Regions from separate parts of the Homo sapiens genome. Here regions 2 and 3 are each linked to region 1. Evidence: fine-mapped expression QTL. A gene starts in region 1. Each other region holds a variant in brackets. All regions are shown on one strand. Distances are from middle to middle.

Region 1 (4,216 bases):
CTGTCATGCAGTAATAGCTTGGTTTTTCCCGTGTTCAGCTCCTCCCCGAGTACTTAGTGTTAAATCACAGGGGGAGGAAGTGTGAGCAGAGAAAAAACAGCACTATTACATGACCCCCGATGAGACCGCTGTGATAGAATTAAAAGCTGCCGCCCTAGGACATTCTAACAGATGACATTGTGAGGTTGCCAAGGTAACCCACTAGGATACAGTCCCAGCATCTTTGGGGTTGGGGCTGGGTAGGCAAGGTCAGTTAGAAGTGAGACCCAGCTGCCCAGGGTCTCTCCCATGGCTGGCCAGTCCATAGCAGTCAAGTGGAAAATCCAGGCAGCTCTCTACAGAACACAAGTGAATCCAACATTTGGCTCCTCATTAAATATTCCAGGTGAAAGAGAATTGGAACACCCTGGATAATTGCTGAATGCAGGTTAAGAAGAGCCTTGAAAGATCTGCATGCTATTGGCTCATCCACTCATTCCACACATATTTACTGAACACCTACTATGTGCCAGTAGGAAGCATCAGAATATCAAGAAGATCAGGAGTTCTAGAAAACCCTCAAAAATGCAGATCCAAGCAGGGAAAAAAGTCATTTAAGACATTTGCCCATGATTATTAGCACTCGGGAAAATATTGAGTGGAAGAAAATGGAAGCAATCAGAATAGCATATTAACCTCAAGCACTGGTGTCTTAAAAAAAAAAAGCACAAAAAACACAACGGTGTGCAAAAGTTTTATAGAGTGAAAATGATTTGCTTAAAAGAAATCAAGCACACTGCAACTAGGTTATGCTGCATTCCCCCACCCCCACCCTCCTTTTTCCTTTATCTTCTTTTAAATGCCTACCGGTTAACACCTATCAATTTTATTTTCTTTCTGTGGCCTAGTGACCAGCAAAGGATCAGAAAGATTTTGGATGGACCCTGACTTGCAGCAATTCAAGGCCTCGGGCAGATAGATAGCATGAAGACCCCTCCCTTTGGCTTCATAAATGGGTGTTCACAACCTCTGGTGATGCCCCTGAGCAAATGTCCCTGCGCACTACTGTCTGAACCTGGACTTACGTGGTCACCTGGTCTTATTTTCTTTCATGTGGCAAGCTCAAGTGTAGGGGGGAAATGGGGGACACTGGGGATAGTGGTGGTGAGTGTGACACCAGGAAAAGGTGGGGTGGAAAGGGAAAGGAGAAAAACAAATAAAAACAAAACAGTGGTGAGGGAGGGGGAGCAAAACAGAACTAGAAAGGCTATGGAAAGAGAAAATAAGGAAGAAAATCTCTGAGAAGCTGTGGTAACAGGAAGAGTCCCTGAAAACAAAATAGTGCTTCCTTACTTGCTGGAGGAGTGTTATTAGTGCCAGAAGGACCTCATCGAAACACTGCTGGGCCCCTAAACCAGCCCTCCACCCTGTGTGCTCCAGTGCTTAACTTTGCCCACACAGGGTCTTCTTTGCCCAATTAGAAAATGGAGATAATTAATTAAATTATCTCACCCTTCTTGTTCTAGCCCCCTTAAAATAATGATAATAGCTAAGTTATAGAGTGGTTGCTAAACACTTTACATATAATAACCCACGAAGAAGTGCCATGTGACAAATAGGCGCAGAGCAGTTAAGTCACTTACCCAAAGTCACACAGCCAGTAAGTACTAAAGCCAGGAATCCAACCCTGATTATTTGACTTTAAAGTTCCCCCTCTTAACCCCTACACTGTAATTCTGCTTGGTTTAGTTTTACGAAGAAAATATTTTCTAATGGCTCCTTGCCTCACATCTTCACTTTACTAATGCAGCCTGGTTTACTAGTGCTTCACTCTTTATATAATTTTCTCCCTGGGTGCCTCAAGTTGCCACGCAAGGTGATTCTCCAGATCTTCTCAAACCTCTGGACATCTTAAGTAGGTAGACCAAGGGATGGCAACGGAGACAGTGGCATTACCCTTCCCTGAAGCACTAACTCGCAAGAGAGAATTTCAGCAGCACCTGAGATGTTTAGGGATGCTCCCACCTGTGGAATGGGGTCGAGAAATGGTCCTCTCTCAAGTCGGCCCCAACCCCACCCCCAGCCATCAGCACCTTGATGGCAGTCGCCCTTTCAGCATCCTGGCTCAAATCTTGAAGGATCCTTGTCTCCCAGGCGCTCTTCCTGACAGCACACAACCTTGATTAGGAGGGGCTGGGAGGGAGGATCGATGAGCCCCTGACCCCTGGGTTCTGAGGCTGCCAGGGTCGCTTGCAGCTCGGCCGCGTGGAGGTGACCGGGCGGAACTCCGAGGGGGCGCGGGGAGAGCTGGGCGGGCCCACCGCTCCAGCGGCTGCTGTCAGGGGCCGCGAGGCTTTCCCTGAAGATGCAGCGTAGCATATTTTGCACATGAGTTCAGAGGAAGAGGAAGTGTAGCCGGCGGACGCGCGGCGGCGGCGGCGGGGGCGCGTCGGGGCTGGAGCCGGAGCGCGCCGGGCGCTGGGCGCAGCGAGCGAGAGCGCGGCGGCCGCGGGCTCCGGCGAGGGACAGACGCACCGATCGCCGGAGGGACAGACACACGACCACGCGGCGCCACCGCCCACGCCTCCACCCACCGGCGCCCAAGTCCTCCCCGCGCCGCCTCCTCTGTATGGCACAAACTTTCCTCCCGGGACGGAACACGCTGCCTCAGGGAGCCCGCGACCGCGCCTTCTCCTCCGCCGGTCCCATACGGTAGGCGGCGGGGGGGGCGCGACAGGGCTTGGGGTGTCGACCGGCACAGGCCCCTCCGTTTGGCCCCATGGACCGGGTCTCTGGCGGGTAGTGGGAACCGCGCGTGGCGCCTCCCTGCAGGTTGCTCTTTGCCGGGGCTCCGGAGCTGCCAGAGCAGCACCCCCTGGCCCGCGTCGGATGGGGACCTGGGCTGATCCTTGGGACGCCTGGATCTTGGGCCAACTTTTTTTTGCGGGGAACGGGTGTAGGGGAGTCATTCCTGGAGCGATGTAGGGAGAGGCACTTCGGAGCAGCCTGTTGGGGGTCGTAGGCTCTGCAGGCTCAGAAGCGCCTAGGAAGGACGCAGAGGTGGGGGAGCTTGGAGGCTACAGGTGGGTCCAGGACACACTGCCGCTGGGGTCCTCGGAAAAGAACAGGAGGGAGCTGGTCGCGGAGTCCAGGTTTCCGGGGTGCGCGCGGCCTGGGTGGGGCAGGGTGGAGGCGGTGCCTGACTGCCCCTCTGCGTGTGCCCTGGGAGGTGGGTTTGCTCTGGGGACAGAGGTGCTGGACGTGTAGGAGCAGACATGCCGCGCGCTCCGAGGAAGCGCCGGAACCACCAGAAGCACAGGGACGCGGGTGCCGAGAGTCCCCAGCACTGAAAACGGGGATCTCCTCTTCTGTAAGGGATTTTCTTCCCTTGTCTTAACCCACTTCTCTAGACTCAAGGGACGCCAGGATGGATATGGGTCTGGGCGAGGAGGAGGTGGTTGTGTATTTCGGGAAGCCCCGTTGTCAGGCACGCGCACCCCAGTCCTAGGCCAGGGCTGGTGCCCTTCACCTCCGGTGTCGCTGCCTTTGGCAGCAAGAACCGCGTGGAGGCCAAGGTTGTAGAACCAGGCACGCTCCCTGCTGTCTGTCTGTGACTCTGTGCTTGCCCTCAGCTGCCCTGTGTGGTTATGGGTGATCCCTAGGGACGCTGGGTGGTGTCAGTGAGTTTCTTCGGGGGCTTAAAACAAACAAACAAGAAGTACTTTTTTAAAAAAAAAGTCTGGCTCAATCTCTGTCAGTGGTCACCCCAGTTTCCAGCAACTCATGTGCTGGAACCCTTGTAGTCGGTACAGCTGTTTCAGGAGCTGGGCGCTCAACTAGACTAGGCATCTTCCAACCCCTGCCATCGTGTGTCATCTCAGGATAAGTTAAGGCCTTGCCAGGAAGGAAGCCGGGTGTAATGTGAGCGACCTCTGGGCCTGTGGGTAGGGCCTCTCTGCTGCCGGGATTCCTAATTTGTATCTCTGAACAGCTGAATCCCAACGAAGTTCAAGTGACCCCAGATGTCACCAAACCCCAGAGAGGGGTTACGAAGCAAGCTGTTTGGGACTCTTTGGTGCGTGTGTGCTAACCTCAGTGAAATCACTCTAACCTCAGACTGAGCTCTGCATCCTCTTTTGCCTTCAGTGGGGTTTCTGGCCCGCCTGAGTGATTCAAAGCCCCAGAGCTGGCACGTCATCCTCTGGCTGCATTTGTATATCAAGTCACTGGGTTGGTT
Region 2 (4,216 bases), 45 kb after region 1:
CTTATTCCTAGAAGAAAGATGCATATTAAAATGGTTTGCTTTATTCTGTGGTTTTTGGGAACAGATATAAAAAGTGGAGACCACTTCTATTTTTATTTTTTAGAGGTAGTGTATGTGAAACTTTCCAAAGCACTTTTTGCTTGCATATTTTACCTTTAACAACTCTGTGAGGTAGGTTGGACAGATATTGAATTTAGTTATAATAGTTATCTGGAAATTCTTGTTTGTTAATTCTAGCACCCTGTGTAACTTGGGATTGGTCTTCATTGATTGCCATTTTTCTTTAAAATGGGTAACATTTTTTATGACATTTTTGTGGTAATTTTGAATTGTATCCTGGACATTGTGACTGTGATGGTGTGGAGACTCTGGATTCTGTTATATTCTTCTGATGACTGTTGATTTTGTTTGTTTGCTTTAGCAAACAAGCAGTTGGACTCCAGCTGCCAACTCTGTCTCTTGGGTGGCAGCTGAAATTTGTTCTTTTAGCCTTAGCTGGGTTGCTTAGGGAGTACCTCGTGCATGCATGGTTCAGGAGTCTGCCAGAGATCTGGGCAGAGTTTATACACAGAATCTGGGGCTCTTTTCTCTGGCTCTCTCCTTTCTGGGGTTTTCTCTTCATATTCTACCAGCTGAAGTAGCCCTGTGTTCTGTCTTCTGTTTCTTCAAGCCAGTAAACTGTGGGTTTCTGTCCGAGTTTTAGCTGCTCCTGTGGTACCAACCAGGGCCTGCCCTTGGGCTAAAAGCCATCAGAGACAAAACCTCGCCCAGTGCAGTACTTTTCTTGCAAGTGTTGATGCCCTCCAGTATCTGCCTGCCTTGGCTTCCTCTCCAGTGCCCTCAGAAAGTTGCTTTGTTTTGTTTTGTTTTGTTTTTATGTCTGTATGTGTGTGTGTGTGTGTGTGCGTGTGTGCAGAGTTTATAGTTGTTATCTGCAGGAGACTTGATCTATAGGAGCATCCTCAGTCATACCAGAAGTGGAGCAGGAAGGACAAATATCCCCATTTTAAAGATAGACAAATGAAGGCCCAGAGAAATCCCATCTCTGGTGTCAGAACACAAGTTTCTGGGTCTGTAGCCTGGACCCCCCTCTCTTTCTGACAGATCTAGGTTCAATTTTCACTTCTGCTCCTTGCTAACCCCATGACCTTGAGCAAGTCACTTAACCCTTTCTGAGCACACAGCTCCTCTGGGTTATTGTCAGGGTGAAATGAGATAACATATCTGGAGCGGCTGGGGCAGAATAAACCTTCAGGAAATGTCCCTGTGTCAACAGAAAGGGTCCTTGGGGATGTACTTGCTGTGATTGTTTGTCCTATCTTCCCCTGGGGTTGACTTTGGCTTTGTGTCCAGTCAGTGCTGTTGTGCAAGGAGGGAAAAAGAAGTAGCTTCATGTTCAAGGTGAGCAAGCATCCTCTGGGCCCAAGGCCGTCCTCTGTGGAAGTCCTGGAGGGGCCTCAGGCCAGCATGTCTGCCCCCAAGCTCCTGGTCCTCTCTCTTCCCCCCTTCCCTCTGTGGAGCACGCCCTACCATGCTCCCCAGTGCGGCATCCTGGAGTCCCACTTTGCGTCTCCAGTTCCTTCCCGCCTGCACCAGGCATCTGTGGAAGGTCGTGCACCTGCCTTTGCACTGTCTCTTGGTGTCAGCTTGTCTTCTCCATTCCTCTAACCAGTGGCCCAGATTTGTCCAGCCTGGATAAGCATAACAGCCTCATAACTGGCTGCTGATGGCAACTCTTGCTATTGTAAAGTGCTTAATAATAATGATGATGATGATAATGATACTATTGGGAAGTATGTAATAACAACAACCGACTCACATAGCACCTAATATAT[A/G]CCAGTCACGCTTCGAAGTCCTTCACATATATTAATTCTTTTAATCCCCACAACACTCAGTGAAGTATATACTATGATTATGCACATTTTACAGATGAGAAAACTGCTAGGGAGTTGCGCAGCTAGGATTTGAACCTTAGTGCCTAGCTCCGGAAGCTATGCCCTTGACTTCTTCAATAGACAGCTAGATATTTTTCACATGTAACCTGTGGGATAAGGACACTGTTATTCTTGTACTTATTTGGACGTGGGATAGGCGGGAACTCAAGGATTGTTAGTGGCCTGTGGCCAAAGGAAACTCCACCTTAGTGGCCAGTGTCAGATGCGATTCAGGCAGGCTGAGTGATGGGGGGAATGGATTGGCCTTTTGGCAGTGAAGAAATGGCTGCATGCCTGCCCTAATGGGCCAGCCACAGGAAGGGGAAGCATACGTACCCTTTTCTGGCTGTGTCTAATTATGTGGCATTTTTTTTGTCTCAGTTATAAAGATTTAATTGCTCCATTGTACTGGGGCACCAGGGCCTCTTATAAGTCATCTTTTATGATTGGTGATAATTGGCTCAGCTTGAATTGGCTACAGCTAGTTGCAATTTCCTTACCATTTTTAATCTGAGATCTGATTTTAGCCTTATCTTTTTTCTGAGTAAAGTTTTTTTTTTTTTTTTTTTTACTCAAACGCTGGGTTGTACGTGAGGAAATGCGTCAGCCTCTCCCCGCTACTCCATCACTCTATTTGGGCTGATTTATGCATTAAGCATCTAATCTAAAGATAGCAAAGATATGAAAAGGCATCTTAAAGTGTTTTAATGGCTTGGAAGAGAAAATCCCACCAAAGGGAGAAACGTGCCCTTCACTCTGTCAGTGTTGTTAGGATCTGATGCCTGATCCCAGGGTGGGGACATTTTTGACAGTCATGGGGTATAGGCAGACAGCATCTAAGGGAGCCCTACTTATCTACCGGAAACTCGAGACAGAATGCAGGTACTTCAAAAACGAACGACAGTGAGGGTTTGGGAACTCCTACAGATAAGTTTCCAAATGAAAAAGATAAGAAGCCTGTCAGCTGAAAGGGAATGAGGAATGAGCCACATAAATTAAGCCGACGGAATTTCTAGAGAGTGAAGTGTGCTGAGGCATCACCAGCCGTGGGATATAAATATAGCTCACCCTGTTATCATTCTGGGGTCTGCAGTCTCCATATTGATGTTTCTATGTTTTGAGTAAGCACTTCCTGAATGTTCCAGTCTTTGAGTCTGGCAGACTTGATTTATGAAGAAAAGATGATGATAATGAATGGGAAAGGCTTGCTGAGGAATTAATTTGGGGGTAGTAGTAAGAGCGAGCCTGCTTCTCTCACCCTCTTTCCCCAAAGTGTACTCTTAGGTGGGTGCTGCCAAAATGCACGAGTGGGGTGAGGGATGAAGCTCTTTTAGACTTCCTTCCTCTGGGGTCTGCTCCCTGCTCTGTCTGCCAGAGATATTTGCTGTGAAAGGCTTTCACCCATTTCTGTCTTCTTTCCTTCCTTTCTTTATTCCTTTCTTCAACTGAACTTTGTTTCCATTCACTTGCATGCCCCTGAAGCTTTTGATGTGCATGAACTGCCGTTGGCTTTTTGCATCTCTGGTTTCCCTTCCATGGCGCACGGTCATCACCTCTTTTGGCCACTCCTCTTTGAGGGCTTTTCTCTGCTTCCCCTTAACCCTGGGCATTCCCCGGGCTCAGGCCCTGCCCACTCTCTTACAGAAGGCTCCTTCCGGGGTCAGCATGTGCTTGGCATGTTTGAGGATCACGAATGAGTCAAGTGTCTGGATCCAGTAGAGATGAGGATGAGTGGCGGGCAGCGGAGGCAGCCGGGGCCATGTCCTGTGTGTAGGGCCTGTGTGGAATGTTGTGGATGGCACTGGAGCAGTCTGAGAAGGAGGGGGCTGCATCTGGATGGCTGAGTTTGTGAGCCAAGGGGCCTCTGCATAAGTGAGGTGTTATTGACCTTGGGATCTTTCTTCCTCAAAATTGAAAGACCAAGGCACTGTGGTTTATTCTCCTGCCTTCCCTCATTTCCAATGCCATCATATCCACTTGATTATTCTTTCCAGCATCTCTCTATGCATCCGTCTGTTTCATTCCTCCCACTGGTTCCCAGGCTCAGGCCTTTAGCTCAGGAGTGGACTACGATCATGATTTCCTTCTACCCAAAACCCTCACCCCCCTTTTTGTTTTGTGTATCTCTCACACATCATTAGACTAAACGCTGCTGGTAACACATTTTTCTCCACACTGACAAGATAAGAATTGACCTTAGGCCTGCCAGTCTCTTTCTCCCACATCTGGCCTTTGCATCCATCCCCCTACTAACCATCTCCTCTTCAATCAGAGTGACCTTC
Region 3 (4,216 bases), 54 kb after region 1:
GATAAACACCTCTTTCCAAGGTCCTTAACTTAATCACATCCTTTGTTATATAAGGTTACTATTCACAGGTTCTAGGGATTAGGACATGGACACATCCTTTGGGGGAACCTATTAAAGGTGGTGCTGCTATAAGAATAATAATAGTACGGGCTTAACAATAGTAGTTATGTGCCAAGAAGCATGCTAAGTGCATTATGTGGATTGTCTCATTTAATCCTTGTTCTGACTCTATAAATCAGGTTCCCTTATTACCACCATTGTACAGAAGAGGACTCAGGCTTGGCAAGGTTTAGGAACTTGCCAAGGCCATTCAGCTAGTAAGTGGCAGAGCCAGGATTTGAACCCACGCATTTGGGCTTCAGACCTCCTTGCCTTACGTGCTATGAGTGAGCAGGCTGAATTTCTGGTTGGACTGCTTCCAGGAGCTGGCTTTTAGACTGTGGGCCCTGGATGGTACTTCCTAGCTCTAAAATTCTATGGTCCAGTGAGTTTTTGTCAGAAAAGAAAACCTCAACCTGGATTATTAAGAGTATAACAAATTTTAATCTGCCAGATAATGGAGAGGATTTGCTTACACTGCTTATAGATGAAACTGACAGGAGTTTGCTGTTGTGCATTTTGATATTTGCTGATGGTTTAAGGTGTGTGTACTGGAAGGAAAAATTACTTGTGGACACACAGGCCAAATCTATACCATCTGAATGAATTGAAGTAATTACTCAGGTTATTTAGACCCTGCCTGCCAGATAATTGAGGTAAATGGGGTTATTAATTTGAAGTAGCTAGGTAATTTGGTCTGCCTCCCTTTGATAATGTAAACATGGTCATATCGTGTAATTGTATAATTGGCTGAAAGGGCCCTATTCTTTCTCTTGAAGCATCTGCTATTGTCTGTGGCCAGGCCTTTGGGTTATAGTGTGATAGTGTGTTCAATTAGTACAGAAAAACCCTAGGTATTTAGTGTGGGTTTCCTGGTGGAAAATTCATACATTTATGTGTATGTATTTATGTACGTGTATGTGTATATATTTTTAATTAAAAATGGAAATATAAAAAGTATTTTAAAATGGATAATTATTCCTGATTATTCACGGAAGAGTTTTAAAGAAATATATATATGCTTCCCAGTTAAACCACCTTAGAGTCTATTTGAGGAGATCAGCTCCTTTGTGAGAGTTGTTTTTTTTTATTGAGCCCCACTGTAATGTCTATATTTGAATTGCCTAAGAAACTCATTATAGCAGAGCTTATTCCTTGTCAAAGATGGTCAAAAGAAAATTAGATTCAGTTCATTAGCTTCTACCTAAACCTTGCTTAATGGGGCCCATGTTGTGGTTTTGTTATTGGATCACAAACATTTAACTTGATCCTTCCTATTCCTGGCACTGGCCCATATTGTCATGGCAGCTGTGCTGCCCGAGGGCCTCTGTGGCGTGGCCTCCTCATCTCACTCTCCAAAATGGCTGAGCCGTGGGTTCTGAGACTTCATTTTACATTGGGACCAAACCTGCTTTGTCTGTCATTTGTTGAAGAAGTCTGGCCAGCCTCGAGTAGGGGCTGCCTTATGAAGGGTAAGAAATTCTGGGGTGGGTAGGTGGGAGAGAGTGGGCCACTTCACAGCTGTGGTGGCCACATGTCTCAGATTTTCTGGAACCATCTAGCTCTAAAATATTCTCTATGGTTTTAGACCTTAAATCCTGAATTTTGGCATGGAAAATGAGGCTCAAGTGACGTCTGCTCACGTGTCTCTTGCGTTAGTTATCTGTATAACAGGCCTCTTACATGATATTTCTACCCTCACCAAAAAAGGAGAAAATGAGAAGAAGATTTAGGTTAAAAAAATATATATTCCCCACCCAGCCTCTGCTTGAAATGTGAGGTTTTGGTTTTGGACAGCGGCGTTGGTTGTTGACGTCATTGATCCAACTATTTTATTTCCC[A/G]CTTCACTTTGCTTGCCCAGGTGTGGTCCAAGGAGTATGAGGGCTGTTAAGATAAAACCAGGCTCCGGAAATTCAAATGAAATGTCTACCTGAACCTCCTCAAGTCTTTCCTGTGGGCTGTGTATTTATTTATAAGCCTATTGGGCTTTGGCAGCAGAAAAAAAGAAGAAAGGAGGAATTTGTTTCTAAAATGAAAACCAAATTTAGTTAATATAAATGCTACCCATGTGCAACTCATCCTGCCAGATCCCAGTAAATGTACAAATATCAAAATAACACAATAGATAAAAATCACGGTGGAAAAAGAGAAATTGAGACACTTCTGTGTTTTGCAGGGCCAGAATAATCTACACAGTTTACTCCTTCCACCATGCATATTTTACATACTACATTATTATCTGATTTTATATAATATTCACATTGTAATTTCTGAATCAACTCTAAAATTCATAAAAATTTAGAATAAAGCTATGCCCACTCAAAGCATTGAAATAAGTCAATCATATGGAAAATTCATGTTCTCAAAAATGTCTTGGCTTCAGTTATCTGAGAAGAAAAAAATCACATTTAATTTTCTTAGTTTTCCAGTTTAGTTTGCAAATGTCAAATAACTAAAAGTTATAGGAACCAAAAAATGATAAACTTCTCTCAAAACTTATTGTATATAAATCTTATTTTTTTTCTAGCATTTAAATAAACAACAATGGCCAATAATTCTATAATATGTTCCTTTTTCAACTTTTTTCTATAACATGATGATATTGACTAGATATAAGTGATGGCTTATTTAAGCAAGTGAATTCTGCACATGGACTAGAATTTTTAAGAAAAATTTTAAGAAAATTTTGAATGTAGAGTTGAGTTTTATTTGTAATTTTCATTTATTTACTTATTATTATTATTATTTTAGAAACACAGGGTCTCACTCTGTCACCCAGGCTGAGTGCAGTGGCACGATCACAGCTCACTGTAGCCTTGAACTCCTGAGCTTAAGCAGTGCCCCACCTTAGTCTCCAAGTAGCTGGGATAAAGGCACACGCTGCTATTCCTGGCTCATTTTTAAATTTTTAAAGTAGAGACTCCCGCTTCAGCCTCCCAAAGTGCTAGGATTTGTAATTTTCAATCTTTTGAGATATGAGAAAATGAAAAATAGTTTTCTACTAGGGCACATAACTCTTCATGTAAGAGTTTAGGTGTCTGTTACACATTGTGGATATTACTTAGTCCTTTCTGGTTCTGTTAAAACTAATTTCCTTCAGAAAACACAGTAGTGGCCAGGCACAGTGGCTCATACCTGTAATTCCAGCACTTTGGGAGGCTAAGGCGAGTGGATTGCTTGAGCCCAGGGGTTCAAGACTAGCCTGAGCAACAGCGAAACCTCATCTCTACAAAAAATACAAAAAATTAGCTGGGCATGGTGCACACCTGTGGTCCCAGCTACTCGGGAGGCTGAGGTGGGAGAATCACCTGAGTCTGGGAGGTCGAGGCTGCAGTGACCTGTGATGGCATCACTGCTCTCCAACCTGGTGACAGAGTGAGACGCTGTCTCAAGGAAAAGAAAAGAAAGGAAAACCCAGTAGCCCTGGGTTGTAACTTTTAGGGAATTCGTGAAGCTAAGCACCATGTTTTCAGATGACTCCCCTGATTTTTGTACTTCTAATCTGCTAGAAAAACAGATGGACAGATTCATTATAAATGTGTATTTAAAAAGAACAGCTATATGGCCTGAAGGACTGCCCAAAGGGAACTGAAGTTTATGGAAAGCATTATGGTTTTGAGAATTATTTGGCTTCTTGCTGTTTTGTGGATCTGAGTTTTTAGTTGCTGGAATTTGACATCTAAATAAGAGGCTGTTTGCTATGATATGTAAATAGAGTGTGTGGGTCGAAATGCTTGTCATTATGCATGTTGAAAGGACAATTTACGATTTACAAAGATGGAAAAGCTCAATAAAGATCCACTATTGAAAAGCTACTGCAAAAGGAAAGCTATAGATAGATGGGCTTCTTGCAGATGAACAGAATTAATGACAAGTGAAAGGAAAAATTCACATCATGAGGAGGGAAAATGTCTTCCAAATGTCAGTGAGAGAAACACTTTTCCTTTTCCTTTCTGCTGTATCCTGGGCATAGCACCCCACTACCTGAAACTCCAGCACCCCGAGCATACCTGGACCTGAATAATACAGCAGAACATGCTGCAGCAATCTATTTCCATGCTTGCCCCTGCTGGCTTTGTACACCTCTATTGTCTAATCATCTCATCTTGTTTCCTTT

The links. PIP is the estimated chance that this variant, and not a neighbour inherited with it, causes the effect. A credible set is the group of variants that fine-mapping cannot tell apart.
Region 2: its variant is the best candidate, but not a certain one, in a credible set for the expression of RFTN1 in whole blood (INTERVAL, PIP 0.88).
Region 3: its variant is the best candidate, but not a certain one, in a credible set for the expression of RFTN1 in lung (TOPMed, PIP 0.89).

The regions. Positions count from the first base shown.
Region 1 is chr3:16,511,917-16,516,132 of GRCh38, reverse strand. It overlaps RFTN1 (raftlin, lipid raft linker 1), which reads left to right and starts at 2,434. Exons shown (of 10, transcript NM_015150.2): 1 at 2,434-2,691. RefSeq lists silencers at 219-268, 876-1,051, 2,205-2,274, 2,305-2,664 and enhancers at 2,955-3,034, 3,585-3,994.
Region 2 is chr3:16,466,920-16,471,135 of GRCh38, reverse strand. The region is part of intron 2 of RFTN1 (raftlin, lipid raft linker 1); the gene reads left to right. Among named protein-coding and RNA genes, the nearest start is that of RFTN1, 45 kb to the left of the region's middle. RefSeq lists enhancers at 3,213-3,342, 3,583-3,712. The variant A/G (reference allele first, on the strand shown) is at 1,836.
Region 3 is chr3:16,458,227-16,462,442 of GRCh38, reverse strand. The region is part of intron 2 of RFTN1 (raftlin, lipid raft linker 1); the gene reads left to right. Among named protein-coding and RNA genes, the nearest start is that of RFTN1, 53 kb to the left of the region's middle. The variant A/G (reference allele first, on the strand shown) is at 1,941.